Linked DNA regions of Homo sapiens. The protein of the gene in region 1 purifies or fractionates together with the protein of each later gene. This does not show direct contact. Each region holds a gene or a part of one and is shown in the gene's direction. Other genes may lie near its edges. The genes, in order: EEF2K, RBP1, EPB41L3, ACTR2, LRRFIP1, UBE3C and CLTCL1.

The links.
Region 2: the proteins of EEF2K (region 1) and RBP1 purify together in Homo sapiens (affinity purification with mass spectrometry; one large-scale study listed by BioGRID and IntAct). This does not show direct contact.
Region 3: the proteins of EEF2K (region 1) and EPB41L3 purify together in Homo sapiens (affinity purification with mass spectrometry; 2 studies listed by BioGRID and IntAct, with this or other methods). This does not show direct contact.
Region 4: the proteins of EEF2K (region 1) and ACTR2 fractionate together in Homo sapiens (co-fractionation; one large-scale study listed by BioGRID). This does not show direct contact.
Region 5: the proteins of EEF2K (region 1) and LRRFIP1 fractionate together in Homo sapiens (co-fractionation; one large-scale study listed by BioGRID). This does not show direct contact.
Region 6: the proteins of EEF2K (region 1) and UBE3C fractionate together in Homo sapiens (co-fractionation; one large-scale study listed by BioGRID). This does not show direct contact.
Region 7: the proteins of EEF2K (region 1) and CLTCL1 purify together in Homo sapiens (affinity purification with mass spectrometry; one large-scale study listed by BioGRID and IntAct). This does not show direct contact.

What each region holds. Positions count from the first base shown.
Region 1 is NC_000016.10:22,258,278-22,261,777, forward strand, and holds part of EEF2K (eukaryotic elongation factor 2 kinase), read left to right. Parts: intron 1-216; coding exon 217-418; intron 419-2,184; coding exon 2,185-2,252; intron 2,253-3,500. UniProt on the Homo sapiens protein: Threonine kinase that regulates protein synthesis by controlling the rate of peptide chain elongation.
Region 2 is NC_000003.12:139,536,943-139,541,014, reverse strand, and holds the start of RBP1 (retinol-binding protein 1), read left to right. Parts: upstream 1-1,272; 5' UTR 1,273-1,296; coding exon 1,297-1,555; intron 1,556-2,055; coding exon 2,056-2,234; intron 2,235-4,072. UniProt on the Homo sapiens protein: Cytoplasmic retinol-binding protein. Accepts retinol from the transport protein STRA6, and thereby contributes to retinol uptake, storage and retinoid homeostasis.
Region 3 is NC_000018.10:5,533,998-5,537,497, reverse strand, and holds part of EPB41L3 (band 4.1-like protein 3), read left to right. Parts: intron 1-3,500. UniProt on the Homo sapiens protein: Tumor suppressor that inhibits cell proliferation and promotes apoptosis. Modulates the activity of protein arginine N-methyltransferases, including PRMT3 and PRMT5.
Region 4 is NC_000002.12:65,251,831-65,255,330, forward strand, and holds part of ACTR2 (actin-related protein 2), read left to right. Parts: intron 1-1,897; coding exon 1,898-2,034; intron 2,035-3,500. UniProt on the Homo sapiens protein: ATP-binding component of the Arp2/3 complex, a multiprotein complex that mediates actin polymerization upon stimulation by nucleation-promoting factor (NPF).
Region 5 is NC_000002.12:237,634,087-237,637,586, forward strand, and holds part of LRRFIP1 (leucine-rich repeat flightless-interacting protein 1), read left to right. Parts: intron 1-3,500.
Region 6 is NC_000007.14:157,141,926-157,145,425, forward strand, and holds part of UBE3C (ubiquitin-protein ligase E3C), read left to right. Parts: intron 1-3,500. UniProt on the Homo sapiens protein: E3 ubiquitin-protein ligase that specifically catalyzes 'Lys-29'- and 'Lys-48'-linked polyubiquitin chains.
Region 7 is NC_000022.11:19,232,720-19,236,219, reverse strand, and holds part of CLTCL1 (clathrin heavy chain 2), read left to right. Parts: intron 1-350; coding exon 351-524; intron 525-1,513; coding exon 1,514-1,711; intron 1,712-2,597; coding exon 2,598-2,798; intron 2,799-2,901; coding exon 2,902-3,054; intron 3,055-3,500. UniProt on the Homo sapiens protein: Clathrin is the major protein of the polyhedral coat of coated pits and vesicles. Two different adapter protein complexes link the clathrin lattice either to the plasma membrane or to the trans-Golgi network.

The sequences.
Region 1 (3,500 bases):
GTCCTCTGAGCCTCTGTTCCAGATGCCCTTTCTTGGAGGCCTTAGGTTTAATCCCTGACTGATTTTTTATTTTTTAAGACAATATATCAGCTCCTAAACAGGCATGTTTAGGAGCTGTGGATGAAGGGGTTTCAGGGTTAGAGGGAACAACAGGAAGAGCCCTTTAATTCCCAGAGGGTGTGTGCGTGACATGAGTATCCCTATTAATGTCCCTAGCAATCAGCCAAGACCATCTTGAGAGGAACAGAGGAAAAATGTGGGAGCCCCCAAGTAAGGACCCTCTCTGGGAGCCGGCCACCCCTGCTCCGTCCCCTTTCAGAGAACTCTGGAGACGAGAACATGAGCGACGTGACCTTCGACTCTCTCCCTTCTTCCCCATCTTCGGCCACACCACACAGCCAGAAGCTAGACCACCTCCGTGAGTGACGGTTCGGTCCCTAGTCACTGTGATTGGAGGGGACAGGTGGAGCAGAGCTAAACCAGCTTTCATTTATGTTAGAAAAATCAGACATGCTAATCGAAAAGGTTCATGGCCCCAGTGGTTTTATAGGTGAGTTTCATTGAGTGAACTTTCAAAACAGATCATCCAAATGCTATAAAAACAACCCCTATTGTAGGAAACAAAGTAACTTTTATCAGTGTGTTTTATGAAACCAGCAAAACCTATATAATAAATTTGACAAACTAAAAAAGAAAATTATATCCCAACCTTATTTAAAATTTGTATTTGTGTATAGAGAACAAAAAAAAAATCTAAATAGATATTAACAAATAAAAATAGTACTATGTTAAAAGGTTCACCTGTCACAGTTAAATAGGGATTTCACAGGAATCTGAGGGTTGTTCAATGTTAGAAAAGCTATGAATGTGATATTAATGGGTCAAAGGAGAAAAACAGAATCATTATTTCTGACACTGAAAGAGTGGAGTTTGCTGATGATTCAGATGAGAGTCTGTAGGAAAGGATAGAGGCAAGACTGACCCCAGGGTATTGGCCTAAAGAGCTGGAGGTCATGTATTCAGGGAAAGTGTGAGCGGGAGCAGGCTCAGAGCAGGAGAGCAAGATTTTATTGTTTAGTTTTTTAATTTTTCTCATTTTGATACCTTTGAAAGAGAGAAAGATTTTAGTGTCAAACATTAAAGAAGCCCTTTAGATGTTTCCACTGGAAGGTCTTTGGAATAGTCTGGAACAGGAGTCAACAGACTTTTTTAAAAGGTCAGAGAGTAAATATTTTAAGCTTTGCAGGTCATTCAGTCTCTGCATTTGGAGCATGAAAGCTACCATAGAAAATATTAAGTGAGTGGATGTGGCTGTGTTCCAATAAAACTCTATGGATGGTGAAATTTAATTTTTGTCATCCATTTAAAAATGTAAACACTGTTCTTACAAACTATAAAAACAGACAGATAGATTTGGCTGTAGAGGGCAGGAGACAGAGATAGGGAACCACCAGGAGATGGTTGGTGTTTTTTTTTTGTTTGTTTTGTTTTGAGACGGAATCTCTCTCTCTGTCACCCCGGCTGGAATGCGGTGGCGTGATCTTGGCTCATTGCAATCTCTACCTCCTGGGTTCAAGCGATTCTCCTGCCTCAGCCTCCCAAGTAGCTGGGATTACAGGTGCATGCCACCATACCCAGCTAATTTTTGTATTTTTAATAGAGATGGGGTTTCACTATGTTGGCCAGATTGGTCTTGAACTCCTGACCTCAGGTGATCCACCTGCCTCGGCCTCCCATAGTTCTGGGATTACAGGCATAAGACACCGTGCCCAGCTGAAGATGGTTTTGAAGCTATCTGAGGCCCACTTCTTGAGCCCCAAATGTATAAACGTCTGTTCTTCCTTCACAACTGCATTTTATTGAGGACCAAGTGGTGGCCAGGCACATATGCTAATAAACACATTACAAGGATAATTGCATTGTGACAACCCTGAGGACACACATAGGTGACACCACTTGGCCAGAATCATGTAGCTGGCAAACAGCAGACTTAGAATAAGTTCTCAAGGAAGAACTTTAGCCTCCAGGTGCTGATAACATTCTTCTCCTTTTTTGTGCCTTTCTTTAAAGCTTAAAAAAAAAAAAAGGCTTGGTGGCAGGTATGGACCGCCCTAGGCCGTGGGTTGGTCTTATGCATGTTCCAGTAGTGGAACCAGGACATGATGTCTGTTTCTCCCTGCCCAGATTGGCCAGTGTTCAGTGACCTCGATAACATGGCATCCAGAGACCATGATCATCTAGACAACCACCGGGTGAGTGTGAAGGGAGGGAGGCTGCAGGCTTCAGACCCCAGCAGGGGTAGGAGTGGATTCACTCCCAGAGTGAATCTTCAGCTTCGGAGGTGGGCAGCCTAGCCCAGGCACTGCCAGGAGGGCACAGAATGGGGGAATTAGGGAGGATGCAGATGAATGTCAGCCTCCAGTCCAAGGCTGAGCTTTCCTCTGAGAAAAGGTGGGTCCCTTGCAGTTCCCAGAGATGGTTAGGGAAGAGGGACTCCCAGTCAGCAACAATGCGATCTTGTAGTAAATGCCAGTCTCAGCTCCAGGTTTGGTTTGACCCCACATGTGTTGGTTGTCCTATAGAGCCCTAATACTGGGTCTTAGATGTGTAACACATAGCACAGTAAGCCATGTGTTCTAGCTCTTCACACCTAGCTCTCCAGTTAGATAAACAGAACATTTCCTGAAGCTTTGGGTTGACTTGGTGGTAAGAAACTGAAGGCATCTTATCTGCATTCTCACAAATGTATATTATGGCAAATTATAATACTCTCTATGCTTGTGTGTGTGTTTGAAATATTTCTTAGTAAAATTGGCCAGGCATGGTAGCTCATGCCTATAATCCCAGCACTTTGGGAGACCAAGGTGGGCAGATCACTTGAGCCCAAGAATTTGAAACTAGCCTGGGCAATATGACAAGACCCCCATCTCTACAAAAAAATACAAAAGTTAGCCAGGCATGGTGGCACATACCTGTAGTCCCAGCTACTCAGGAGGCTGAGGTAGGAGGATCTCTTGAGCCTGGGAGGCAGAGGCTGCAGTAAGCCATCATCACACCACTGCACTCCAGCCTGGGTGACAGCGAGATCTTGTCTCAAAAAAAAAGAAAAAACAAATACCTTTTAGTAGAGGCTGGGCGCAGTGGCTCACGCCTGTAATCCCAGCACTTTGGCAGGCCAAGGGGGGCAGATCACTTGAGGTCAGGAATTTGAAGACCAGCCTGACCAACATGCCAAAACCCCATGTCTACTAAAAATACAAAAATTAGCCGAGTATGGTGGCAGTTTCCTGTAATCCCAGCTACTCAGGAGGCTGAGGCACGAGAATTTCTTGAACCCAGGAGGCGGAGGTTGCAGTGAGCAGAGGTCGCACCACTGCACTCCAACCTGGGCGACAGAGCGAGACTCAGTCTCAAAAAAAAAAAAAAAGAAATACTTCTTAGTAGAGGCGGGGTGTGGTGGCTCACACCTGTAATCCCAGCACTATGGGAGGCTGAGGCAG
Region 2 (4,072 bases), on another chromosome or scaffold:
AGCCTGCACTGTGAGAACACATGTGAGCCCCAGGGAGGCACCCTGGGGAAGGTGGTGCTAGAGGGGAAGAAAATGTTATCTGCTGTCACTTAGGCTGTGATTTGTGCAAAAAGCGATTTAAAAGAGGTAGTCAAAAAGAGGGTCAAAAAGTCAGCCCATGTGATTATGTCATCTACTTGGTGGCAAATGCAGTTAAACCACAATGACATACCCACGCAGGTGACAAAGGAGATGTGATCAAAGATTTTCATTGCAGTACTGCTTTTAATAGTGAAAGATCAGAAACAATATAGTTTGTCCATCAGGGGACAAGCTGGATAAGCAATGGAATACTCCGTAAAATAATGGGGATACTTTCTATGTACAGCTATGGAAAAGTCTCCAGAATATATTAAGTGAATAAAGCAAAGTCCAGAACACCGTGGAGTACAGTGCTGCCATTAGGTGAAACGGGAGGAAACATTAATAAACAGTATATTGCTTACATTTGCATAAAGCAGCAGTGGATCTCAAAGTTGATTGTGCATCAGAATCACCCAGAAGGCTTTTTTAGCCACATGCACTTCAAATAACATCAACTATTTTACTTATTTATTTATTTATTTATTGAGCCAGAGTCTCACTCTGTCGCCCAGGCTGGAGTGTAGTGGCACGATCTCGGCTCACTACAACCTCCTCCTCCCGGGTTCAAGCTATTCTCCTGCCTCAGCCTCCCGAGTAGTTGGGACTACAGGCGCCCGCGACCACGCCCGGCTAATTTTTTGTATTTTTAGTAGAGACGAGGTTTTACCGTGTTGCCCAGGCTGGTGTCGAATTCCTGACCTCAGGTGATCCGCCCGCCTCGGCCTCCCAAAGTGCTGGGATTACAGGCGTGAGCCGCCGTGCCCGGCATCCTTTCTTTTATTTTCGGGAGAGACGTGGAAAGTGCCCCAATTTTCTCGCCCGTAGTTGAACCTCCCAGCTTTCCTGACCCCAGCCACCACCGGCGCGAGGCTTTAGACAAAGGCCTGTAAGTGGCCTCTTTCCTTAATCACGCCAGCACAAACCCCAGGAGATTGTTTCCCAACTCCCGAGTGGCTGCTGAGTGTGAGAAGTTAATGGCGTTTGAAGGAAATCCCCAGCAGCCGAAGAGTTCGGCCAACAAAGCAAACGTCCCGTCTCCGGTCTCCTCTTCCTTTGTAGGGGAAACGAACTGAACGTCTGAAACGAAGGTGGCGCGGCCTGGACAAACCTGACCCTTCGACATCCCCCGCCCCTGCGCCCGCCCTCGCTAAGCGGGGAGGAGCGACCGCTACAATGGATCCTCCCGCAGGCTTTGTGCGCGCTGGGAATCCAGCTGTCGCCGCCCCGCAGAGCCCCCTGTCCCCGGAGGGCGCTCATTTCCGGGCCGCCCACCACCCGCGTAGCACCGGCAGCCGCTGTCCCGGCAGTCTCCAGCCGTCCCGCCCGCTTGTGGCCAACTGGCTCCAGTCACTCCCCGAAATGCCAGTCGACTTCACTGGGTACTGGAAGATGTTGGTCAACGAGAATTTCGAGGAGTACCTGCGCGCCCTCGGTAAGCGCTGCCCGCTGCGCCCTGGGCGCCCCGCCGAGCAGCTCCGGGCCGCTCCCTAGAGCCCTCCCGAGACGCTGCCTGCCTGCCTCCATCCCGGCGAGCCGCGGTCCGGTGCCCCCGGACGCCAGAAAGGGCGTCCTCGGCCACCGCTCCCAGGGCAGCCCCCAGGCTGCAGATTGGAGAATTCGGGGTTGTTAGGTTAACCGGTGGCAAATGTCTGCTCGTTGGCCCTGGAGGTGGGTAATTTCATTAGTAAATCTGGGGCTTGGTTTGCTACTTTTTGTTTTTAAACGGTTAACATAAGAGCAGAAAACTTTGTTGGGGGCGGCAGGGGAGGCACAGGCAGGCTGTGCGCAGAGACAACGCAAAGCCAGCGGGAACCCTAACAGTGTTCGCGGGCGGAGAGGGCTCCTGGGGCCCCGCTACCTTGGGAACGGTTCTCTGAGTTTCCCTGCCAACTCTCTGGCGCTCTCTCTCTCCCCGTTCAACCCCCACCGCAGACGTCAATGTGGCCTTGCGCAAAATCGCCAACTTGCTGAAGCCAGACAAAGAGATCGTGCAGGACGGTGACCATATGATCATCCGCACGCTGAGCACTTTTAGGAACTACATCATGGACTTCCAGGTTGGGAAGGAGTTTGAGGAGGATCTGACAGGCATAGATGACCGCAAGTGCATGGTGAGGATTCGCGTCCACCTGGTGTCTCCTGCCCAGGGGGCCTGACCAAGGGCTGGGCTAGTTCATCCGAGAGGGGGCAAGGGCCTGAGGGACTGAAAACTCTTCCCACTCTCAGCCCCCATGGTGGGCAGCACCAACTCATGAAGCATCCTGCTCTATCTACACTGGAAGGTGATGGTTATGAAGGCTGCCATGTGCTGTGTCTCCACTGCGTTCAGGCACTCTGCCCGGTGCTTTATGCACATGACTTCACCTAAGCCTCACACAGCCTTTGAGGGAGATATGAATATGCCCATTTTACAGATGAAGAAACAGTCTCAAAGAGATGAAGTAACATGTCCAGAGTAGCACAGCTAGGGAGGGTCTGGAGTTCAAAGCATGTCTGTTGATGCCGTTCTCTGGCTGACTGGGCTGGTGGAGGGTAAAAGAAAAGAAAGGAGGAAAGAAAAAAGAAACACAGGTAACCCCTTTGAAGTGTAAACTTTCAGTATGACTTAGTGTGAAGTCACTCCAGGAAGCTGGGGGCCCCTTGATCTCTGCTGGAAGCCCCCTGATCTGCCCATCCTTGCCCCAGAGCTGGGATTTGGCTCCTGGCCATCCCCTGCCCCACCCTGTCATCCAATGCCTACTGAGCATTCTTTGAACTTTGCAGCTGACACCTATTCAGTAAGTCAGGGCCCCTCCAGCCCAGACCAGAGGAAACAGCAGTGGGGGAAGAGGGAGGGCCAAGAGCTCCCTTCCACAAGGGTGGGAAACTCCTGACCCAGGACATCCCAATTAGTACTGCCACAGCAGATGCCGGAAGGCCAGCCCCAGGCCTCCATCAACATTATCTGGTTGCTGGGAGGTCAAGGTACTCTTGTTCTCCCTTTATAGTCTTGGGTTCAGAAGTGGCTTATGTTCATCCCAGGAGCCACCTTGCTTATTGATGGGGTCCTCACCCACCACCTCCCACCATTTACCAAGGGTCTTTACCGCTGGTCTGCTGTGTGTCCAGCACTGTGCTAGTCATCTTACAGCACAGCACAGTGAGGGAGGGATAAGTAACCCCATGTTATGCAGTGACTGAGGCTCAGACAGAGGAAGAGACTTGTAAGAGATGAGACTTGAGCCCTGGGCCTTCTGATGTTGAAGCCCACAGTCCTGCTTTCTGCCAGCTTCTCTGCTGGTAGTCTGTGCAGAAACAAGATAGCTGAGGTCTGTTAGGATTGTAGTTGAAGGGATGCCCATGTCTGGGAATAGGCATCTGGAGCCTGGATGACTCATCCCCCCACCTTGTCTATTCATCTGAAGGCAGTCAGGATTGGTATCTGAGTCTGCTGTTTGGAATGATGGGAAAGAGGGGGTAGTCAGCAGGGAGTGGCCTTGGAAGGACCACTAATGGGAGAAAACACCATTGTTGCAGAGAAATGTCAGGTTGTGCCTTTAAAAATCTCAAGGACTCTTAATCTGCAGGAAAGACTCACAATAGGAAAGGAGACCTTCAGATGGCATCTGCCTTTCTCATTACTGCCCAAGACCTGCTCCCCGGCACACTGCATGGAACTTTGCTCCTTAAGAATAATCCTTACCCCCACTCACTATTGTGGAACTCACAGATCACATCGAACCTTTATTTTGGGTCACCACAAATCTGGCATGTGCTGGCTTGTACTAATTATCTTCACTCTTTCCTTCCTTTCTTCATCCATTAACACATGAAACATTTATTGATCACCTAGTAATACTAGCAAATGCAGTACTCATCAAGTGCTTACTGTCATGCCAGATGCTATTCAAACGTTACATTAGCTGACTTAATCTTCACAACACCCTTTCAAGCCTCATTTTACAGATAA
Region 3 (3,500 bases), on another chromosome or scaffold:
GGAGACAGATGGTCTTTAGTTAATGGAGTTATCCAAAATTTTGCAGAAATTGAATGTGATGTTTTTTTCTCTCAATGATTGATATTTTGGCAATTCATTCCATCTTTTTGTGGGAGTATTTAACTGAGGATTAAATACTACTTTTGGATTGTTTAAGGTAGAAAATGAGATATACGAAATATGGGAAGATTTTCCTTATCCTTTCAATGAATGTATCTCAGTTATTTGAGATATTAAAAATAATACATTCTCACTTTAAAATATAGTCTAACAATACAGAAAAACCAAAAAAGGCAATGTCATTATCTACCTTTCTGAATGTATTACGTATCAGAGTGGAATAGGACACACCTGGGTTGGGCTCTCGGCCTTGCTATTTAATAACTATGTGGCATGGTTCTTTTAACTTCCTAGAGCCTGTTTGCTCGTTTATAAAATGGGCATAATGCTTATATCTGAAGGATATGAGGATTAAATGATGTAATACATGCAAACACTGAGCACAGTATCTGGTATATCACAAGTGCTTCATAAATAGCAGTAGCATCATTTTGTACATATACAGACTCATATGTAGATTACATAATATTTTACATGAATAGACTTCTGTCTTAAATACTTCTATGTAACCATTTTTTGTTTGTTTGTTTCGTTTGTTTGTTTTTTGAGAACAGAGTCTCACTCTGTTGCCCAGGCTGGAGTGCAGTGGCACGATATCAGCTCACAGCAACCTCTGCCTCCCGGGTTCAAGTGAGCCTCCCAGGTTCAAGCGAGTCTCCTGCCTCAGCCTCCCAAGTAGCTGGGATTATAGGCAACCGCCACCCTGCCCAGCTATTTTTTTTTTTTTTGAATTTTTAGTAGACATGGGGTTTTACCACGTTGGCAAGGCTGGTCTCGAATGATCCTGACCTCAAATGATCTGCCCGCCTTGGCCTCCCAAAGTGCTGGGATTACAGGTGTGAGCCACCGCACCAGGCCAAATTTTTTTTTTTTTTAAATGTAACAGTATGTCTCGGAGGAGCTTTTTCATGCATGCAAATCTATACCCACATCATTATTTTTAATGGTAAATAAATATTTTCTTTTGGTCTTGTGCAATATTGATAAAGGATCATTACCTTAATGATGGTGTTGATGTGAAGCCTTGTTGTCCAGCCCCTCTGCCTCCTTCTGCTTGCTGCCTACACTTCATGACTCTCTTCTAATATACACATCAGGAGGCTTGTGGTAAAACAGGATATTTAAAAAAATTAAAATCTCTGATGATTATTATGTATATCTCAATGTTGTGTGTGAATATTGAGTTCTAACAAACTAAAACAAGCAAATTTTCACCATAGATTTCCTGACTTTTTTAAATTTAGATTTTAATGTCATCTCTTTATAGAGGGGCGAGCTCATCCAGCAAAGCCTAACCTGAGTTCCTGGGTGCCCATCATTCTCCCATGTGCCTCTTGGCATGCCTCGAGGGACAGCAGATGCAGCAGTCTGGACCTGAACTAGACTCTCCAGAATCAAAATATCCAGGGTCTGGGATAGTTTAGTAGGTGTACGGGGTCACTGGGCTCCCAGAGATGGAAAATATTAAGCTTCCTTTGATCTCTCTCTGAGTTCCCAACCCTTCCTTCGTCCTCAACAACAGAATGGTAACAAATGTCATATTCCATTCACAGATTTTATGCCACCTCGTCAGGGATGTGGGCTGCTCTGTTATGTTATTCACAATCCCATGATTTTGACTGATCTTGGATTTACTTGGAATCCAGTCTTCATTCACCAATTTGGGGAGAATAGCTTTATGATCCTGAAGGTGGTGCTAGCTGGAATGGTGCACCCAGGCTTCTGTGAGATGATGCCATCGGGGCATCTAGAGGTCTCAGGCTGGCCCGGACAGTTGCATATTTCTACGTAATTTTTTCCTAGAGTTACTAACATCCCAGAGATATAGGGAGTTTTGGGTAGTTTCATTACAGAGAATTATTCTTGATGAATTTTGGTGTTTTATACCATTTTGTGCTACTCAGTGACAACTTTTATTAACTTTAGAAGGAATATGCTTACTGGCTAAGTATAAGACTTGGAAAATAGAGATTGACTAGGTTGTCTGCTCAAGAAGTCTGGAAAACTTTTCCTCTGAATTCTTGAAATGAGAGCAGTAATTCATTGGGGGGAGTTATATTGTAGAACAGGGGTCCCCAACCTTTTTAGCACCAAGGACCTCCATTTTGCTTACCTCCTGCTGTGTGGCCCTGTCCTTGGCACAGAGGTTGGGGTTTCATGGAAGACAGTTTTTCCATGGACGGGGGTTGTGGGGGATGGTTTCAGGAAGAAACTGTTCCACTTCACATCATCAGATTCTCAGAAGGAATGCACAACCTAGATCCCTCACGTGTGCGGTTCACATTCTCACATTCTCACTCAAGAATGTGAATCAAATGCCACTTCTGATCTGACAGGAGGCGGAGATCAGGTGGTAATGCTGACTCACCCACCGCTCACCACCACTGTCCTTGGCCCAGTGGTGGGGAATCCTTGTTGCAGAATAAAGAAAATACAAAGAGCTAGAGAAGATACAGATGGAAACATCTGCTAACCTTGAGCTAGGTAACTGTGGGAGGAGTACTCTATTTCTCTAGGCAAGGTTCCCCAGAGTGAACAGATGACGATGCTGCCTACCTCCAGGTTGAAATGAGATCTGTGTTTGAAGACATCTAGAACCAGTCTAATGAGAGTATACACATAGTACATGTTTTCTCATTTCAGTAGTATATGCTGTTGTCCTCTTTGCTTGTTTTTAGGGACATGTCTTAGTAATTGTAAGATCCAAAGATGACCCTCAGGATGAGTGTAGAATTTTGTGACATTCCACCACAAAACCCGTAATCCAAAAGATGGCCCTCTATGAGAATGCAGAATTTTTTGAGTATGAAACTCCAGATAACAGTAGAGGTTTGCAAAGAATGAGACACAGTGGTTATACAACAGAATTACCTGATGAGTTTATTAAAAAGGAATTTTTGGGGACCAATCCACGGATTATCATCTAATAGATCTGCAGTTGGATCCAGACCTCCTTATGTCCCGACAAGTACTTTGGTGAAATCTGATCCAGGTGGTCCCAGGACCACATTTTGAGACACACTGTCTTAACGACTTTTGTCTTAATGACTTTCCAGCTTCTTCACTATTGTCAAATGAGCGTTTAACCTGGAAAGAAGATATAATATAAATAAATAGTACTAAGGTTGAAGAAAATGTTTAGCATAGAGCAAAGAAACCTGGCCTTGGACTCAGAATGCTTGGGTTTCTTTTTTTCTTTCTTTTTTCTTTTTTTTGAGACGGAGTCTCGCTCTGTCACCCAGGCTGGAGTGCAGTGGCGAGATCTCGGCTCACTGCCAGCTCCGCCTCCCAGGTTCATGCCATTCTCCTGCCTCAGACTCCCAAGGAGCTGGGACTACAGGCGCCCGCCACCACGCCTTGCTAATTTTTTGTATTTTAGT
Region 4 (3,500 bases), on another chromosome or scaffold:
TTAATGGAGGGGACTACTTATATATTCTCTTGATATTGCCATTAGCAACTGCCTCCCTCTTTATTGGAAATAAAATATTGGCCACGTTGGGAGAGCTCTTTTTTTTTTTTATGGTCTTATAAATTCAACAGGAACTTACTGAGAATGTCTGGGCCTGTCAGATATGTGCCAAGGAGTCTTTTAGGCACTTCAGGGGATAATCCAGTGGGAAAAGAGTGTGGCACTGGAAATGGGTCAAGTGTGTTTGGAGAAAGGCCAGTATGTGTGTGACCTGATGGAAGTGGTAGAAAATAAGGTGAGGTGGGTAGGGAGGGCTCTTTGGGAAATAAAATGTAAATTCTTGCATTAGTCAGTGTTCCTGGGAGTATTTTTGAATTGATGATGGTGTGAATTCCTCCTTTTTTTTTTCTTTTTTGCAATGGAAATCCTCTTCTTTTTAAAAGAGTACAACATTCAAGGGCTGTATATGAGTTTTATGAGGCTTATTGCATCAAGGAATTATATCCACTTAAAAAGGAGGTAGTTTTAGGCCGGGTGTGGTGGCTCACGCCTGTAATCCCAGCACTTTGGGAGGCCGAGGTGGGTGGATCACGAGGTCAGGAGATCGAGACCATCCTGACTAACACTGTGAAACCCCGTCTCTACTAAAAAAAAAATACAAAAAATTAGCTGGGCATGGTGGCATGTGCCTGTAATCCCAGCTACTTGGGAGGCTGAGGCGGGAGAATCGCTTGAACCCAGGAGGCAGAGGTTGCAGTGAGCTGAGATTGTGCCATTGCACTCCAGCCTGGGCGACAGAGTGAGACTCTGTCTCAAAAAAAATATGTAAATAAAAATAAATAAAAAAAGTTTTTTTGACCAGGTATGGTGGCTCATGGCTGTAATCCCAGCACTTTGAGAAGCCAAGGTGGTCAAATTGCTGTATCTCCAGAGTTTGAGACCAGCCTAGGCAACATAGTGAGATCCCTATCTCTATAAAAAGTAAAATTAGCTGGGTGTGGTTGCACATGCCTATAATCCCAGCCACTTGAGAGGCTGAGGTGAGATGATCACTTGAGCCCAGGAGGTTGAGGAAACAGGGGAAACAAAGCAGCTTCTTTGCTGTTCTTTTATTATGAGGTTTAACTGACATTGCCTTTTATTATAAGTTCCAGTGAATAATCAAAGTGATGCTTTGGCTAGCCATGTTTAATTTTTCTTAGATTTCTAGCTGTCTAGTATCAATAGGCATTTTTCCAGAACACACAGTATATGTTATTTGTAGTATATTCAAAACTATCTAAGTTGAAAAAAATAAAGAATTGTACAGAGCTTTAAGAACGTGTTCTGCTGGGTGTGGTGGCTCACGCCTGTAACCCCAGCAGTTTGAGAGGCCAAGGCAGACAGATCACTTGAGGCCAGGAGTTCGAGACCAGCTTGGGCAACATGGCGAAACTCTGTCTCTACAAAAAAATTACAAAAATTAGCCAGGCATGGTGGTGCATGCCTGTAGTCCCAGCTGCTCAGGAGGCTAAGGTGGGAGGTATGACTTGAACCCAGGAAATGAAGATTGCAGTGAGCCTAGATTGAGCCACTGTACTCCTCCAGCCTGGGTGACAGAGCCAGACCCTGTCTCAAAAAAAAAAAGGAAAAAAAAGTCCTGTTTTTCAGTCCTCAGTCTCAGGGTCTGTTTCTTCTCATCTCCTTGGACAGCACATAATAGTAGACTAAAAGTCTTAAAAGAGAACACTCGCTTTAATACTTATGCATTAGAAACAAACTGCAAAATAACTAAATAATAAATTCTGGCTTCTAGTTGGTTACGTTTCTGTTTTGGCTTCCCTACTGTATTTGGAACTCGCTGGCTTTGGTTTTCCTGATTTGACTTTTTATTTAAATCCCCCTGGCTTTTATGCAGGTTTATTGACTGGTGTAGTGGTAGACTCTGGAGATGGTGTGACTCACATTTGCCCAGTATATGAAGGCTTTTCTCTCCCTCATCTTACCAGGAGACTGGATATTGCTGGGAGGGATATAACTAGATATCTTATCAAGGTAAGTGAAAGGAAAATATCATGGAAATTAAATTTTGTAATTTGTTTACCACCTTAACACAGAATTGAATCTATCGTTTTAGGATTCCAGCAAATCTGTACCACTAGAGAAATTATCCAATTACCTCCCTTATTTATATAAAAATTCATATAAGATTTATACACATGAAGAAAAAAGAAGATACATTAAAAACAAGGAAAAAAGTGTACACACATGATCTCTGTATACTAATGAGAGTACATTATATCATTACATAATTATATTTGTTATTCCTGAGGAGTGAGTAGACAGATATTTCAAGGATAGAAGAGACCCCTAATTTGAAACTTTCTTGGACAGCTCAGGCAGCCTTTTCTGCCATAAAACCTTTCTTTGAGCAGGTATGTTTTAAGCCATGATCTTGGTTGGGTTGTCTGCTCTTGTCCTTTCCTACAAAATACAGTGATAGCAAATTAATGATATTTGAGGAAAACAGCCCAAATACGCCAGACTTTAATATTTAGTAGTTTTCATGGAATAGATGCAGTTTTTAATATTTACTATTTTAGTTTATTTCTGAATATAACTAGTTATAATTTTCTTTAAAACATTACTGGAGAAAGTACATAAGGTGTCTACTTGCTAACATATATCATTTTTAATATTAAAATAAAATTTAGAAAATTGTTTATACCACAATTCTATAATCAGTCTATCCTCTCCAGGACAGTGGTTCTCACCAGGGGACAGTGCTGTCCTCTGGGGGATATTAGCAATTTCTGGACACATTTTTGGTTGTCTGAGCTGGGCAGGAATGCTACTGAACATTCTATAATGAATAGGGCTGGCTGCACAACAAACAATGTATAGTCTGTCAGTGGTGCTGCTATTAAGAAACCCTGTCTCTGCATTAAATTGGGTTGCACTGTCTTTACCTTGACATTGGGTTCCTTCAGTCTCATTTAAAGTAATCCTCCTCATGAGGGGAGATTAAATTAATGAGAATTATAATACTCTCATTTTAGGCCAAAATTCAAAGCGTAACTAACAGAATTTCTGGGGTTGTCTTTAGAACACAGACTCAAATATTAGAGGATTTTTTTTTTATTTGTAAAGTCTAGTAATTTTTTTTCTCTCAGTGGGTTTTTAAAAAAATAGTAGTATTTTCTAGCATTTAAGAAATGTAACAATGGAGATTATACCTTTGAGTATCCCAATAATTCCCTTATCATTCGTTAAACAAATGCTATTGTCCTTCTAATATGTGCCAGACACAGTACTAGAAGCTAAAGATAAAACTTTTAAAGACTTGGGGGCATTTCATAAATATGGCATTAATTGTGTGAGCAAACTGCAGGCTACAGGAGTCCAGTACTAAAATAATATTTATTCATTAATATACTTTTGATTGTTTATCAAAACTATCAAAACATTAGTACTCATGCAGTGCTTTTCAAAAACTGACTTTTCTAGTCATTTTACTGACT
Region 5 (3,500 bases), on another chromosome or scaffold:
TCCTTTTAAAATATGTCAGATCATGCCACTTCTCTGATAAAAACTTTCCAAGGGTGTCTTGTATCACTCCGTAAAACCCAAGTCCTTAAACAAGCTACAAGACCCTCAATGATCTGGTAATGATCTCCTTGTTTATAAATAACATACATATGTATTACACATTAGTTTATCAATTGCAGATGCTGTCAGCTGGCTCCTGCATTGAAGGACGGGACTTGGTGTGCATGGGCCCAGTTCAGGCCAGCTCCCTACTTTCCTTCTCTGCATCACACTATAGTTCATTGTAGTGTGGGGCTAAATGAATATTCACTGGCAGGACAGACTGCTTAAGAATATGGGTGCTAGAATCAGATTTCCTGGGTTCAAATCCTGATTCTGTCCCTTATACCATGACTTAGGGCAAGTTACTTATCAACTTTGTGCCTCAGTTCCCCCATAGGTAAGATGGGAAAGTTTTAGGAGTATACTTCACCCAGGGCAGTTATGAGGGTAAATGAGATCTTTCACAAAAAGACCTCTGAACAATGACTGTCACATAGTAAATGCTCAGTAAATGCTGGTGATGATGATGATCTTGCCAGCTGTGTAAATAATGTCAATTGCAGAGCCAAGCAGTGTACTATAATCTTTCTTTCCTTATACAACTTTCTGCTTCTTCTAGAGTTAATGATTTATTTTCTTTTTCATTGCTCATCTGCCTACATATCTAGCTTATCTATCTATATATCTACATATCTCCATAAAGTTTTCAATAGAACCCATCAAAATGCTATGTTCTATATGATTAAACAAAGCAGATAATCTATCAATTCCATTTTATTCTCCCATGGAAATCTACCCACTAGAGACCTCTGTCCTCTAGATCCAGTCTGGTCTGGATGTTCTCCTCAGGGTTTCCTGCACCTGCCATTCCCTCTGCCACCATTCTGAGAATTTCTTTTACCCCCTTTTTATTGTTGTTGTTAGGTCCCTATTTTCTGGATTCCATATTATCTGCCTTCTTGGATTGCTGTCTTATTTTGCTGGAACACATCCTTCAGTAGCTTTCGGAGCAAGAATGCCTTTTCTAAGTATTCACATGTCTGAAAATGTCTTTATTCTACATTCATACTTGATTGATACTTTGGTTGTGTATAGAGTTCTAGGTTAAAAATAATTTTCCAAAAAATGATGAACTCTGTGTCTTCTTTGACATAATTTCCAGTAAGTATTGTTAATTGGAAAAAGTAATATACAGAAAATAAAGATAGCATGCTGTTCCTTGTGTGAGAAAGGCTGCAATTTTCCTGCATTTGAATAAAAATCACTGGCAGAACACAATGAAAGGAGTGTGGGGATGGAGGTGGAAGCAGGTTGTCAAGTGCCACTCTTCATGCTCTTGATATTTGAACCATGTGACTGTATTAACTAGTCAATAAAATAAACTAATAAATATCAAAAAAGTAAAATTAGGAGCCAGGCATTATGGCTCACACCTGTAATTCCAGCAACTCAGGAGGCTAAGGTGAAAGAATAGCTTAGGACCAAGAGTTCAAGTCCAGCTTGGGCAACAAAGTAGGACCCTTCCTTTAAAAATATATTTTTTTTATTTAGCTGGGCATGGTGATGCATGCCTGTAGTCCTAGCTATTTGGGAATCTGAGGCAGGAGCATCGCTTAAGCCCAGGAGTTCAAGACCAGCCTGGGCAACATAGTGAGACCCCCATCTCCACAAAAAAGAAAAGAAAAAGTGAGTGGGTGTGGTGGCTCATACCTGTAATTCCAACAATTTGGGAGGGCAGTGAGTGGATCACTTGAGCTCAGGAGTTTGAGACCAGTCTGGGCAACATGGTGAAATCCCTTCTGTACTAAAAATACAAAAATTAGCCAAGCATGATGGCTTGTGCCTATGGTCCCAGCTAGTTGGGAGGCTGAGGTGGGAGGATCACTTGAGCCCAGGGGACAGAGGTTGCAGTGAGCTGAGATCACACCCCTGCACTCCAGCCTGGGTTGACAGAGCAAAACTCTGTCTCAAAAAAAAAAAAAAAAAATTTAAAAGAAAAAGTTTGGAAACTTTTAGGATCTTCTCTTTATTCTCAGAATTCTGGATTTTTCCCCCACTTATTGAGCATTCATTGGGTTCATTCAATCTGGAAACTTGTATCCTAAAATTCTGGGAAATTTTCTTGAATTTTTTCCTAGCCCCATCATTTTTTCTGTTCTGTCTTACAGTAATTTCTGTAAGACAGAACAGAAAAAGAAGTAATTTTTCATTTTCCTTTCTTTTCTTTTTTTTTTTTTTTTGTCTTTTGGTAATACTTCAAGGAAGATTCTTCAACTTTACCATCCACTCCCTCTACTAAGTTTACCTGTTTTATATTGAATTGCTAAGTTTTTTTATTGTTCTTTATCTCTATAGCATCCTTTCTTGACTCACTAATGCAGTACCTTTTCTTACTACTCTAAGGATATTAAGCAAATTCACTTAATTTGGGGGTTTTCCTGAAAATTTTTTTGTTCCCTGCATCCTGGTCTGTTTCTTTTCCTCCTTTGTGTGTTTTGGCCTCTGTCATCTTGGAGCCTTTCTCAGATGTGTGGTGATCCTCAGCTACCCTTTCATATTTTAGAGGGAGGCACTAAACATGGTGACTACAATTTGAGCAAAGGCCAGGAAGAGAGATGTCACAAAGTGTGAACAGGAAGCCACACAGGGCGGCTGAAGTGTTGGTACCAGACAGTGGTTCCTCAGGCAGGGGCAAGCAGCTCTGATTTGAACCCAGTCTCTTGCCTTTGAGGCCAGTGCCCTTGACCACCATGTCAGTGTTAGGAGGAAACATTGCTTAATGTTAACCAGTCAGACTTCTCTAATTTGGTGCCTGCAGGTGGAGTTTTGTTTTTGATTAAGGGACTAGTAAGGCTGGAAAAGAAAGTTGAAAATTAATCTGAGACATACACCAGGGAAGAACGGCTAACCTCTAGTGTCTACACAGCTCAAACAAAGGAACCCATCATTATGGTATTCTTTTACTGAGAGCGAAATAAAATGTCAAATTAGCTGAGCAAATAAAGATAGTAAAACAAAAAAATATGAGATTTTCATAGCTTCAGGCATCAAGAATTGGGCTGGGCATGGTGTCTTGTGCCTGTAATCCCAGCACTTTGGGAGACCAAGGCGGGTGGATCACCTGAGGTCAGATGTTTGAGACCAGCCTAACCAATATGGTGAAACCCCATCTCTACTAAAAATACAGAAATTAGCCAGATGTGGTGGCTTGCACCTGTAGTCTCAGCTACTCGGGGGGCTGAGGCAGGAGAATTGCTTGAACCCAGGAGGCAGAGGTTGCAGTGAGCCAAGATCACACCACTGCACGCCATCCTGGGCAGCAGAGCGAGACTCCATCTCAAAAAGAGAAAAAGAAGAAGACAAAAAGCAAAGGAATAATTCATTTATTTGCTTGGAAAGTTCTCTAAGATCTGAGATATACTTTCCATAAAACAAATAAAATACCTGGAGAGTTTAGG
Region 6 (3,500 bases), on another chromosome or scaffold:
TAATACTCTTGTGCTGGGTCCTAGATGATACGCATGTTCAGCTGTTGTGCACACCGCTGCCACAGTTTCCCCGTGTCGCACGCCCACAGCATCTGAAGGTATCCAGGTTTCCACATCCTTGCCAACACTTGATATTGCAAGTCCTTTAATTTTAGTGAGGATGTAGTTTCTTTGTGGTTTTAATTTTGTTTCCTGACAACTAATTATGTTGAGCACCTACATATGCTTGTTTTCCTGAATTCTCTTTGACTGCCGCATAAGTCCCTTCCCTTGTTGGAAAAATGAAGTTATAGTGACCCTTTTCTCATGTCTTAAATTATTATTTGAAATCTTCCCTTTCTGGAGCTTAGTGGAAAATGGAGTGGTTACCACCTTTGAATAAGCTTTTTCTTTTTTCAAATTAAATACTTTTAGTATTTATTATTTGTATAGATCTGTGTACGACAAGTCTGACTTGAAGAAGTTGATAATCTTGTTGGGCAGATAAGACTTAAGCAATTAAAAATTAAATAACAATAGAGTAATTGCTACATTCTAAATTTCCCTTGGTCCTGATTCAGAAAAAGTAGAATTGTTTGGAGCTTAGTCCTGAAGGATGGGTGTAATTAGGATGGGTGGAAGACGAGAAGGCATTCCAGGTTCGTGGAGCGGGGTGTGTGGAGTACATGTAGATTGGATTACATTGATTCAAAGTCACTTTGGGGAGCTAAACATTGATTACACATGGACATAAAGATGGGATGATAGACACCAGGGACTACTAGAGGGGGAAAGAGAGGGACGGGGACAAGGGCTGGGAAGCTACCTGTTGGTAACTGTGCTCACTCCCCGGGTAATGGGATCATTCACACCCCAAACCTCCGCGTCCTGCAGTATATTCTTGTAACAAACGTGCATAGGTACCCCCTAACTCTAAAATAAAAGTTGAATTTTTTTTTTTTTTTTGAGATGGAGTTTCGCTCACGCTGGAGCGCAGTGTTGCCCAGGCTGGAGTGCAATGGTGCGATCTCAGCTCACCACAAACCTCCACCTCCCGGGTTCAAGCGATTCTCCTGCCTCAGCTTCCCGGGTAGCTGGGATTACAGGCCTGCACCACCACGTCTGGCTAATTTTGTATTTTTAGTAGAGATGGGGTTTCTCCATGTCGGTCGGGCGGGTCTCGAACTCCCGACCTCAGGTGATCCGCCTGCCTCAGCCTCCCAAAGTGCTGGGATTACAGGTATGAGCCACTGCGCTCAGCCTGAAATTTTTTTTTAAGTCACACTGATTTCTATCTTTAAATATTTCTGACATCGGGATACACACTGATAGCATGATGCAGTTTAATTGGGGGTATGTTTTTCTTGGTAGTGTATAGAAGAATATCACGGGGTCATCTGATTTCAAGTACAGAAATGGACTAAAACTAGCTTAGTAGGCAAAACAAAAAGAAACAAAAACAAGTTTATGAAAGGATAGGCGTGTCTGACAGAATAGAAAGGTCAGAAACACCCAGATAGCAGGTATCACCACCACAGGAGTTGCTTGTCTTTCTCCAGGAGCTGGGTGCACTCCCTTCTTCCTGTCTCCTTCATTCCTGGCTCTGCAGACTGGCTTTCTCCATTTCTCACACATGGTTTCCTAGCTTAAGCGTCAAGAAAGTTTGATCATAATTACCAGTTTTCAGGAGAGGAAAGTCTGATTGGCCTGGGTCATGTTTCCACCTGATAACCTCAGTCTGAGGAGGGCTTGGAGGCTTGGTTCAGATGGAACAGTCTAGGTGCACCTGAGGGCTGGGGTAGATTCTTCAAGAAGCGGGGAGTGGTCGTTGACTGAATGCCTGAGTTCCTGTGGGACAGGCACAGGAAGGAGTCTAGGCTAGAGATGCAGATTTGGGGGTTATCAACAGAATGGTGGCTTCGAACACAGGTCCTTAAGAGGACTTGGAGTTTGGGACAGGGTGGGACTCGTGAGGTACTGCAACATTTAATATGTGTGGGAGTTGGGGATACTTACAAAAGAGTCACACCTCCGGGAGTGGAGGAGAGTGGTGTCCAGGGAGTGAATCTCAGGGAGGGAGGAGTGACAGGCAATGCCAAGTGCTGCACAGACACAGTGAGTCCACTGACTGCGGAGCTGGGAAGAATTGGGTGATTTGAGCATATTCTGTAGGGTAGTCAGAGTTGGAAGTCAAGAGCATAGCACATTGGAGAGTGAATGGGAAGTCACAAACAGGGCCGAACACAGGCCGGATGCTGTGGCGCACGCCTACAATCTGCCACACCGAAGACTGAGGCGGGAGGATCGCTGGATCCCGGGAGTTCAAGGCTGCAGTGAGCTGTGATCATGCCATAGCACTCCAGCCTAGGCGACACAGCATGACCCCATCTCTTAAAAAATAAGGCAGGGGCAAGGCAACAGTGTAGACCTTTTTTGAAAAGCACCGGAAGATTGGATGATAGAGGGAAATTCGGTGTCTCGGAAATAGTTTTGTCTGTTTTGGGAGACGGGGGAAACTTAAGTTTATAGACTGGGAAGGACGGGGGTTAAAAATGTGGGGAAGACAGGAGTGGCATAACTTTCAGAGTCTTCGAGAATACCCGAGAGGGGAGAACTGAGTGGGAGCAGGCAATGGGAAATATTTTGAGACTTAAAGAAGCTAGGGATGAATATGGATATAGAAAAGTTTGTAGACCGGAGGAACTGAAATTTTTTAAGTTTTTGTAGATCTGACAATAGTGGGAGTAGAATTAAGATCACTTTAATGTTTGTCCAGTGCTTTTTTTAAAAAAAAATAGACTTTATTTTTTAGAGCAGTTTCAGGTTTACAATCAAGCAGAGGGTAGGGTTCCCATATGCCTAGTCTCCCTCACCTCACTTTTCTCTATTACTAGCATCTGGCATTAATGTGGATCATCAGTTACAATTGATAAACCAATGTCGATGTGTTATTATTAATTGAAGTCCATAGTGTACATTCAGGTTCACACTGTGTGTTGTGCATTGTGTAGGTTTTGACGAATATATGATGACATGTATCTACCCTTACAGCGTTATACAGAAGAGTGTCATTGCCCTAGAAATCCTCATTGCTGGCCAGGTGTGGTGGCTAATGCCTGTAATCCCAGCACTTTAGGAGGCCGAGGTAGGCAGTCAGGAGTTTGAGACCAGCCTGGCCAACGTGGTGAAACCCCGTCACTACTAAAAATACAAAAAATTAGCTGGGCGTGGGAGGCTGAGGCAGGAGAATTACTTGAGCCCTGGAGGTGGAGGTTGCAGTGAGCCTGGATTGTGCCAGCGCATTCCAGCCTGGGTGACAGAGCATGACTCTGTCTCCAAAAAAAAGAAAAAAGGAGGAGGCCCGGCACTTTGGAAGGCCAAGGAGGGTGTATCACCTGGAGTCAAGAGTTCGAGACCAGCCTGGTCAACATGGTGATACTCTATCTCTACTAAAAATACAAAAATTAGCCAGGCGTGGTGACAGGTGCCTGTAATTGCAGCTACTCAGGAGGCTGAGGCAG
Region 7 (3,500 bases), on another chromosome or scaffold:
AATTCTCAATCAAGTACAACTTAGAATCCATGTCTCAGGAAAGCATTGCTCCCACCAGTAATCTCTCGGCCTGAGAAACTGAAGAATCCTTGTATAGCTAGGTGTGGCAGCTCACACTTGTAGTCCCAGCTACATTGGAGGCTGAGATGGGAGGATCACCTGAGCCCAGAGGTCGGAAGTTGCAGTGAGCTATGGTGGCACCACTACACTCCAGCCTGGGTGACAGAGCACGACCCTATCTCAAAAAACAAACAAACAAACAAGAATCCTCTTTATCATTTGTGAGCTCTTTTTACCCGCATGGCTTCTCCTCCTTACTTTCCAACCTCTTGCTCTCTGTCTTCTTATAGATTGGAGCTAAACATGGTGTTATTTACTTGATCACAAAGTATGGCTATCTTCATCTGTACGACCTAGAGTCTGGCGTGTGCATCTGCATGAACCGTATTAGTGCTGACACAATATTTGTCACTGCTCCACACAAACCAACCTCTGGAATTATTGGTGTCAACAAAAAGGGACAGGTGTGTAACTCTGACATTTCATTTTCTACCTTTTCCATTCATTAGGGACTGGCGTTTAAACTTTCCCCCTTCTCTAGGAAAGCAGCTGGGTGTAGCTATTAATAGTTCCTGTTATTAAACTTAAACCCATGTCTCCTCCTTCATATTGACACTTCCTCTCTTCAGACAGCACCATTCCTAACACAGGATTGATTCCAGGAGGAGAGCAGCTCCTTCCTGCGTATAGAACAGCAGTTCTGATGCACATCATCTTTATACCATGCACACCCTAACTGGGGAGGGTTGAAAAAGCAGATACTATGGTATTTAAGTAACTTTTCTCAACCATAGTTGAAAAAGATAGTTAAAAGAAGAAACTCTTGGCTGGGCACAATAGTTTATGCCTGTAATCCCAACTGCATGGGAGGTTGAGGCAGGAGGATGGCTTGAGCCCAGGAGTTTGAGGCTGCAGTGAGCTGTGATCACACCATTGCACTCCAGCCTGGGTGAAACAGTGAGAGCCTGTCTCAGGGGAAAAAAAAAAAAAAGTCGGGAACAGTGGCTGATTCCTATAATCCCAGCACTTTGGAAGGCTGAGACAGGAGGATTGCTTGAGGCTAGGAGTTTGAATCCAGCCTGAGCGACATAGTAAGACCCTGTCTCTACAAAAATATTTTTTAAAAAAGAAAGAAACTCTGTACTTTAAAAATAAAAAGTTTAAGAAGAAAAATTGTCAGTTCCATCCACATAGGTCATTTTGCTGTAGCGCAGAACGCATCACACTTATCTGTGTGACTTTAATAACTACATAGACTCCTATGCTGTTCTGTTTTGTTACCATTTGGCTTTCGGCTGCTTTGCCTCCTTTCACTGTGAGGGCCACCATCACAGGTGTGCTCAACACTCGCCTGAGAATGTGGCTACCACTCCAGCATCGGAAGGGAACATGGCAGAGGGATGGTGGAGCACTCTTCTAGGCCGGGCTGCTCTCACTTGTTGTGTCCTTACAGGTACTGTCAGTTTGTGTTGAGGAAGATAACATTGTGAATTATGCAACCAACGTGCTTCAGAATCCAGACCTTGGTCTGCGTTTGGCCGTTCGTAGTAACCTGGCTGGGGCAGAGAAGTTGTTTGTGAGAAAATTCAATACCCTCTTTGCACAGGGCAGCTATGCTGAAGCCGCCAAAGTTGCAGCGTCTGCACCAAAGGTGATAAACCTTGAATACTGTTCAAGTGTTCTGAGTGTTAAGAACCAACCTTGAGAGGAAAATAAGTCATAAAAGCATTTCACTAGTGATATTGCAGTCTATTAGTGTTATGTTAGGAGTTTTTAGTTTAAAATTTTTGCACCAATGGCATAACAGTAAAGGAAGTAAACAAAAAACACACTCTTGCTGCATCGGCACTTCTTCACGCCTCCCACTTTGTGTGCATACGTACCTCTCACCCAACAGCTTAGATACAGTTTCACATTTCTGTAACTTAGCATTTTCCACTCTTGCTACCTGGTTGTCAAATATGCAACTGTACAATACATCAAGTGGTTGTTCCCTGTTTTATCTAGCGATAGTCCTACCCTGGACTTTCTCCACTCTTTTAGAATATAGCATTTCGGCATATGGCTTTTTCTTGGGTTTATTTCATTTGGATAAATTGTTCAGAGACTGGATCTGTTCCTGAGTAGATAAAGACTTTCAAGTTGCTTGTCCTTGAAAGAATTTTTCTTGTCTTTCAAGGGGTAGTTGTGAACAAACCATTTCTAGCCTTCATCTGTGAATTTGAGTATTTTGAATTAGAATATAATGATAGCAGAACTTCACTACTACAAGACTGATTGAGAGGCCGAATTCTTACTGCAGCATGCTGGGGGAGAAGTAAGACCCTAAGTGTGAAGCCACCTGGAGGACCTAGATTCCCCTATACTTATGGTTATTGTTGAAGATAGAAGCAGTTGCCTTGGTAGAGGACTTTTTGTCTATGACAGAGCAGTGTGGAATTTCCACTGGCAGATTTTTGTTTTTACATACAAGGAAGTTGAGTGAAGGGATCCCCTGTGATTACAACACAATGACCTATTTTTCCATTTATTATTAGGGAATCCTGCGTACCAGAGAGACGGTCCAGAAATTCCAGAGTATACCCGCTCAGTCTGGCCAGGCTTCTCCATTGCTGCAGTACTTCGGAATCCTGCTCGACCAGGGTCAGCTCAATAAACTTGAATCCTTAGAACTTTGCCATCTGGTTCTTCAGCAGGGGCGTAAGCAACTCCTAGAGAAGTGGCTGAAAGAAGATAAGGTAGAAACACTTGTGAGCTCGTAGCCCCCCCGCACAGCTTGAAAACTTGGTCCAGGCTCCCTACCTGCCTCCTAACTTTGCCTTGTCCCTTGGCATACCACAGCTGGAGTGCTCAGAGGAGCTCGGAGACTTGGTCAAAACCACTGACCCCATGCTCGCTCTGAGTGTGTACCTTCGGGCAAATGTGCCAAGCAAAGTGATCCAGTGTTTTGCAGAAACAGGCCAATTCCAGAAAATTGTGCTCTATGCCAAAAAGGTAACGTGTGTTGAACCACTGGCATCTCACAGATTACTCACGTGTGGTTGAGTGGTTGCTGATTTTAAAGTTTATAAAATACCCTTCTTTGTAAGTCCTCTGGTGTGAGAGTTGGCAATGTTGCTGTTAGGATCTTTATTCATAATGATCATATTTTATTCTCTTCAGCTTTTTATTATCCTTAGTTTTCCAGTCCTTCCATCTTCGTTTTATTTGGGAGCTTTATCTTGTTTTTTCTCTCCCTCTCTTCCTTCTGTATGTTAATTTGATATTTTGGCAGACTCCCAGATCTTATCCCTGTGTGCTTACTGGCAGGCTGTGTTTGCACACAGATCAGGAAACTTCTTTGTGGTCTGGGCTCTTTGTATAGTTAATTGTGCCTTCCATGTACATTAAATCAATTCATTTAATTGGATATTGTGTTTGGCAGAAGGTGGTACCTACAC